2 linked regions of the Homo sapiens genome follow. The protein of the gene in region 2 purifies or fractionates together with the protein of the main gene of each other region. This does not show direct contact. Each region holds a gene or a part of one and is shown on either strand. Other genes may lie near its edges.

The links. The genes of interacting proteins can lie anywhere in the genome.
Region 1: the proteins of DYNC1I2 (region 2) and PSMB7 fractionate together in Homo sapiens (co-fractionation; one large-scale study listed by BioGRID). This does not show direct contact.

What each region holds. Positions count from the first base shown.
Region 1 is NC_000009.12:124,356,443-124,359,942, forward strand, and holds part of PSMB7 (proteasome subunit beta type-7 precursor), read right to left. Parts: intron 2,745-3,500; exon of another isoform or gene 474-2,744; coding exon 322-473; exon of another isoform or gene 1-321. UniProt on the Homo sapiens protein: Component of the 20S core proteasome complex involved in the proteolytic degradation of most intracellular proteins. This complex plays numerous essential roles within the cell by associating with different regulatory particles.
Region 2 is NC_000002.12:171,739,469-171,742,968, reverse strand, and holds part of DYNC1I2 (cytoplasmic dynein 1 intermediate chain 2), read right to left. Parts: intron 1-3,500. UniProt on the Homo sapiens protein: Acts as one of several non-catalytic accessory components of the cytoplasmic dynein 1 complex that are thought to be involved in linking dynein to cargos and to adapter proteins that regulate dynein function.

The sequences.
Region 1 (3,500 bases), on a different chromosome or scaffold from region 2:
AGAAATCAGGGGATTCTTTAAGACACTTGAGAAAGGACAGCAGATGATCCAAACCTCTCCGGCCCCACCTCCCAGCCTAGGGCTCTTTCCTGGGCCACCCTCCACCTCTCCCATCAAATTAAATCACTTTCCTACACCTGACAGCAGCCCACTGTCATAAAGCAAGTAACAAGCCGAAGGTCTGTGTGGGAGGTTGATTTGGGAACACTGGATGTACTTAATGTGGAAAGAACCAGGAAAACTCCATCCAGATGCCATGGAGATACCAAGGGTGGCCACGACGCCAGGGGACCCAGGAAGAACTTCGTCTCCTTCACTCACCTGGTCCCCTTCTTGTTGGGCACTGTGTATGGGCGGAGAAAATCCAGCTTGTTCTTGCTGATGACGCAGAGGTCAATGTTGCTTCCGGAGCCCAGGTCGTTGAAGATGCCAGCTGCGATGGCTTCGCTCACCAGATTCTTGGCTTCCTCCTCCTGAGAAACAGAACGGCGGCAATAATGTCCCCGGCCAAACTAGGGCCTGCTCTGACATCCGCAATGTACGTCCACTAGCAGTGCGCAAGACCTCCCGCGAGACAGGTGTTGTTTTTAATGCCCATCTCACAGATGAGGAAAAGATCTCAAAGTACCTTGATTATTTACCCAAAGTTCCCGACCCAGGCCTTTAAAACTTTTTATGCATGCACCGCCTCTTGACCACATCAGACAATCACCACAAAACGATGGGCTGACAGTTACTAGAGGGTTAGTAACTTATCTTTAAAAGGGCCAGGTAGTAAATATTTTAGGCTTTGTGGCCAAAAGTCTCTACCACACCTACTCAACTCTGTCACGCTAGCACAAAACAGCCACACACAAATACATTAAAAAATGGGTATAACTGTGTTCCAATAAAACTCTATTAGCAACAGGCAGTGGGCCAGATCTGGCCCACTGACTGCAGTTTACTAACTATCCCCTGATCAAGAATGTCCAACAATAGCTGAAAGTTACTTGAGAAAGTCAGCACTGTAGGAGGAAGAAACTAACACCAAAACACAAGCCGGTAGTTCTGGGGAAATGCTGGCAGACCAAGGGCGGGACCTCTTGCCCAGAATAATCTCTCTCTCCTACTAAGGAACCTATAGGTTCACTGAAGTAATCCATTACTTTGAATCACTCTCTCCTTTGCCCCACCTTTAAACACAAATCCCCATCCCTAATAGTTACTGGTGAACAGATGGACTCATCCCTTTCTTATCCGAGAAGCCCCATCACATGCTATGTCCTATCACATGCTATACCAGAAGCTAGGGCTGCAGAGGTGGATGACGCCCCCAGATCCCTGCCCCCTAGGGGCTTAAGAGTCTAGCAGGGGCACCTGACCCAAGTAAGTACAATGCAGGGTAAGGCTGGCTAAAGAGCACGTGAAAAGGAGCTGGGAACACAGCTGGTCAGCAGAGCTTCAGGGAGGGCTGAAGGACAGGCTGCACACGAGGCACTCAGAAAACAGCAGTGAAACAGAAGGCAGGCAGCAACGGCAGTGGTACTGGACCTGGGGAACACCAAGTTCAAGCTCTATATACAACGAGGACAAAAATGAACCAGGCTCCCTGAAAGCAGGGAATCTAACCTGTGCTACGGCGCCTTCCCAGTCCACGAGGGCGTGAGAGTACATACACATGCAAGTGCACTCCAGCGCTCACCCAAGCAACACCCTTGGAGAAACACGGACTCCAGGCCCAAATCCAGCCTGAGACCCTCAAAGGGCAGATCCGCTAACCTCAAGTTTTCAGAAGATCTGAACCCACTGGGGGCTCCTGCTCCTCTGCCTGCCCCATGCCAGACTAGGATTCCAGTGACATAAGCGCCCTCTACAGACTCAGAAGGACAGAGAAGGTTCTGCTGGAAGTGGGCTCCTCAGCAAACCAGCAGATAGGGGTTCCTTTGATATTTATACCCCAGGTTTTTTCACTCTCACGTGACATCTATGTGGGGCCAATGAAGCCAATTCTTCTTTTGTACATATGCAGTCCTGTAAGAATGCATTCAAACGGGATCCGCTAATTAGGAATTTTCTCCTGGAATTCTCAACAGTCTATGGGGCCAGAAGCTTTCCACAAACCAGTGAAGGTGGCAGCAAAGAAAGCCTCTTAGACGAGGAGCTGGCAGCAGCTGCTATCTAGATAGACAGCAAAAACCAACCACTAATTCAGCAAACACAACCTCATACCTAACCGCTTCCCTTTAAATGGCCTTCGGTGTGTGCGCACATGGGCACGTGCGGGGAGAACCATACTTATTCCCCTGTTCCCGGCCTACCACCTCTGCTCCCCCTTCTCTTCTCTACCATTTAACTGTCTCCTCTGCTTTGTTTCTTATCACTGCTGCTGGTGTCTAGAGCCAGCCAGCAGTACCTGGCAGACATCGCGACCCTGCGGGCAGCGCTTAGGACTGCACATTTACATTTCCCAAATGATCTGGGTAGATGGGGACAGGTGAAGACTTGGGGAAACGGAAATATACGAATGACATGAGACATGCATATCTAGTGTCAATCCATTCGACTGGGCACAGGACAGCAGACTGCTGACAGTGCTATGTAAGATTATGAGTGATCCTCCCTCTATTTTGCAAACAGTCTGTAAGTAACTGATAAAACTTTAAAATATGCAAATTTTAAAATTATATAGTTTGATTTACTCATCAAATTATCATGTATGCTGTTATTTAAGTATGAATAAAGGCTTTTTTAAATTGGGAAAATACATCTTTTAAATTCCTTTCCTCCCCACCAATTCTAGGGAAGATCATTCCTTAAGGAAGAAAATCTCAAGTTTCTCACTTTTTTCCCCCCAGTCCCACTCCATGTCTCATATACACATGGCTGAAGATGTTAGGAGATGGAATGAAACTTAGATTTATGGAGCACCTATATGCTCACTAAAACAATCAATCAATCAACATCTACCAGCACTCTAACGTGCCAAGCCCTGAGTTGGGCACTTTGATGATCATCATGTTCACCCCTGCCCCCAACCATCTTTTGATGTTGGTATGGTCAGAAACTCTGGCTGACGGTCAATGACTTACACAAGGTCACACAGCAGGTAAACAAAAAATAGTAAAACAGGCCCATCAGGCCCCAGAGCCACAAGGCCGCAGCACCACACCAACTCGCAAGTGACCTTCCTTGGGCCGGGGGCTCCTCAGCTAGTCCCTGACTCAAGGCTGTGTCATTCACGCCCCACCACCAAAGAGCCTTAAGACCTGGGTAAATTTAAGAGGAGGAGGATGGTGTTTGCCGGTTTCTCTCTGGGCCAACCAGCAGCTCCTCTGATGGTCACTCCCATTGGGGGTTGGAGGGCAGTGTTTCCCAAAATACCCAAGACTACCACTTCAAGGGCCTTCTTCATTCTCAACCAAGTTAGGGCAACATCTCTACAATGCAACACCAGATCAATATTAAGATCTAAGGTCTTATTTAACATATCCCTCCCTTAACACCCCAAACCCTCATAA
Region 2 (3,500 bases):
GTAAATGCAAGCAGACTACAGTGCAGTATAAGTAAGTTCTCATGGTACAGTCTGGGTGCTATAAACTCTCAAAATTAACAAATCAAAGTTCCTTTCCAAGACAAAGTCTCACAGAAGAGAAACTGCTGGGAGTAGAATCCAAGTTGTAGAATGCCAGACAAAAGAGACAAAGCAGTAAGTTCAGACAGAAGTGGTGGAGAGAAGCAGAAAAGGCACATCTCAGAAAGCACAAGGTACATGTATTCTCACTTTGCAAAAGCCAGAGAAGAGACAGCTTTAACCTAGAAAATGAACTAGGAAAGTTATCCTTGCCCATTCCCTCCCTCCTAAAAATACACAAAAATTCATTTCACTAGTAGACAATAGCAAAGAAAAGGATCTCAGTCAGATTCCATAAAAGTTATTGTGGTGTCAAGAAAATTAGATAGGAAAGGAATAGTCTTTTCAAGAAATGGTGCTGGGAAAACTAGATATACATATGCAAAAGAATAAAGCTGGCCCAGGTGCCATGGCTCATGCCTGTAATCCCAGCACTTTGAGAAGCCAAGGTGGGTGGATCACATGAGCTCAGGAGTTTGAGACCAGCTTGGCAACATGGCAAAACCCCATCTCCACAAAAAATACAAAAATTAGCTGAGCATGGTGGCATGCACCTATAGTCTCAGCCACCCTGGGGGCTGAGATGGGTGGATGGTTTGAGCCCAGGATGTCGAGGCTGCAGTGAGCTGAAATCACACCACTGCACTCCAGCCTAGGCGATGGGAGTGAGACCTTGTCTCAAAAAATAAAAAAATAAAAAAAATAAAGTTGGATCCCTCCTTCCTTACATCATATAGAAAAATTAAATGTATCACAGATCTAAATGGAAAGTAAAACTATGAAACTTTTTTTTTTTTTTTTTCTGAGACCGCGTCTCGCTCTGTCGCCCAGGTTGGAGTGCAGTGGCATGATCTCAGCTCACTGGGTTCATGCGATTCTCCTGCCTCAGCCTCCCAAGTAGCTGGGATTACAGGCGTGCACCACCATGCTCAGCTAATTTTTGTATTTTTAGTAGAGAAGGGGTTTCACCATGTTGGCCAGGCTGATCTTGAACTCCTGACCTCAGGTGATCCACCCACCTCGGCCTCCCAAAGTGCTAGGATTACAAGCGTGAGCCACCGTGCCTGGCCAAAACTATGAAACTCTTAAAGGAAGCATACAAGTAAATCTTTGTGACCTTGAACTCAGCAATGATTTCTCAGTTGAGAAGCCAAAAGCACAATGATAAAAGAAAAAGTAGGTAAACTGAGCTACATCAAAATTAAATACTTTTGGGCTTCAAATGATATCAAGAAAGTGAAAAGAGAACCTACACAATGGGAGAAAATATTTGCAAACCATGTATCTGATACATCACTGTGTCCACAGTGCTTACAATAGCCTATAAGTACATGAAAAGATGTTCAACATCATTAGTCGTGAGAGGAATGCAAATCAAAACCACAATGAGGTATCACTTCATACCACTAGGATAGCTAGTATAAAAAAGTAACAAATGTTGGTGAAGATACAGGAAATCAGAACCTTCATACCTTGCTGGGGAATGTAAAATGGTGCTGCCACTTGAAAAACAGTTTGGCAGCTCCTCAAAATGCTAATTAGTTACCATGTGACCCAACAATCCCACTCCTAGGTATATACCCGAGAGAAATAAAAACTTGCACATTCACAGCAGCATGATTCATAATAGCCAAAAAGCAGAAGCAACTGAAGTGTTCATCTGATGAATGTATAAACAAAAAGTGGTATATCTATACAATGGGGTATCATTCAGCTATAAAAGGAACAATACATTGATACAAGAAGTATCAATATGAAGGATGACCCTTGAAAACATTATGCAAAGTGAGAGAAGCCAGTACACAATTGCAAGATTCCATGAAATGTCCATGAACTGTCCATAACAGGCAGACCCAAAGAGATAGAAAGTAGATTGATTAGTGGTTTCCAGGAGCTGTGGGGGTAGGGGAGAATGTGGAGTGACTGCTAATGGGCATAATTTTTCTTTCTAAAATTTGAAAATGTTCTAAAATTAGATACTGGCAATTAGGCGTGCCTCTGTGAATATACTAAGAACCACTGAATTGTATACTTTAAAAGGGTGAATTTCATGGTATAAGGGTTTTGCTCAATAAAACTGTTACTTAAAAAGAAACTTATTTTAAAAGAAGAGATAAGGTGATCTAAAAAAAAAAGTGATAAAGAAGATCAGCAAAAGTACATCTACAATGGCAGGTCCTGAAGAAGAAAACCAAAGCAGTAATACAGAACAAATACCAAAAACAACTCAAAAGAACTCTCCTAAAATGAAAGACAGCTTGAAACTACATATTGAAAGGATATCCTGTGTATCTAGGAACACTGACCCTCTAAAGAAAAGGGAAAAAATCATTTGATCACCCACATTTTTTAAAAAGACCAAATCGCAAGTAGGAAAAAGAAAATCAGATTGTGATCAGATTTTGTGACAGCAATGCTTTTTTCCAGAAGTCCACAGAGTAACTAAGGTATGCAAAGAAAGAAAACGTAAGTCATGGATTTTATAAACAATCAAACTAATCTTCATAATCATGTACTTTTGTGGAATATGGGAATAATGCACCTGTGGGCACCTTCTGCATCACGTACTATAGAATGAGCTTCAGATGACCAAAAAGACTGAAGAGACGTTAACGTAAGGTCTGGTGGATAACCAAATCATTTATGAGGGTAAACGTCTCATTACAGAAACATAAACTATCTGCAACCACACACATTAATATGAATGACACCACAGGAATGCAAAATCGAGACTGAGAAACCCTACAGGACCAACTTGACAGACACCAACCTGGTTTCTTCCTCAAGAATAAAACAGCAAGAAAAAAAAGAGGGATGCAAGCCCTACTTTAAAGAGGAACTTAAAAGGTATGTCAATTGTGGCTGGGCTTGGTGGCTCAAAATCCCAGGACTTTGGAAAGCCGAGGAGGGCTGAGGCAGGCGGATCACTTGAGGCCAGGAGTTTGAGACCAGCCTGGCCAACATGGTGAAACCCTGTCTCTACAAAAAATATAAAAATTAGCCAGGCATGGTGGCGGGCGCCTGTGATCCCAGCTACTCAGGAGGCTGAGGCATAAGAATCACTTGAACCCAGGAGACAGAGGTTGCAGTGAGCCAAGATCGTGCCACTGCACTCCAGCCTGGGCAACAGAGTGAGATTCGGTCTCAAAAAAAAAAAAAAAAAAAAAAAAAAAGAGATATGTCAATCGCAAATGGATGGCCCTCCTTTGGATCCTGCTTCAAATAAATAGTAAAAAGAAAAAAAAAATTGAACACTGATAGGCCATTTGACGAAAATAAGGAGCCAATGTTCATTTTGGGGCATTTAATAATGATATGGTAGTATTTTTTAAAGAGGTTTTATTTTTTAGAAATACATAATGAATATTTATAGTTGAAATGGTATGTATAGGCTTGATTTT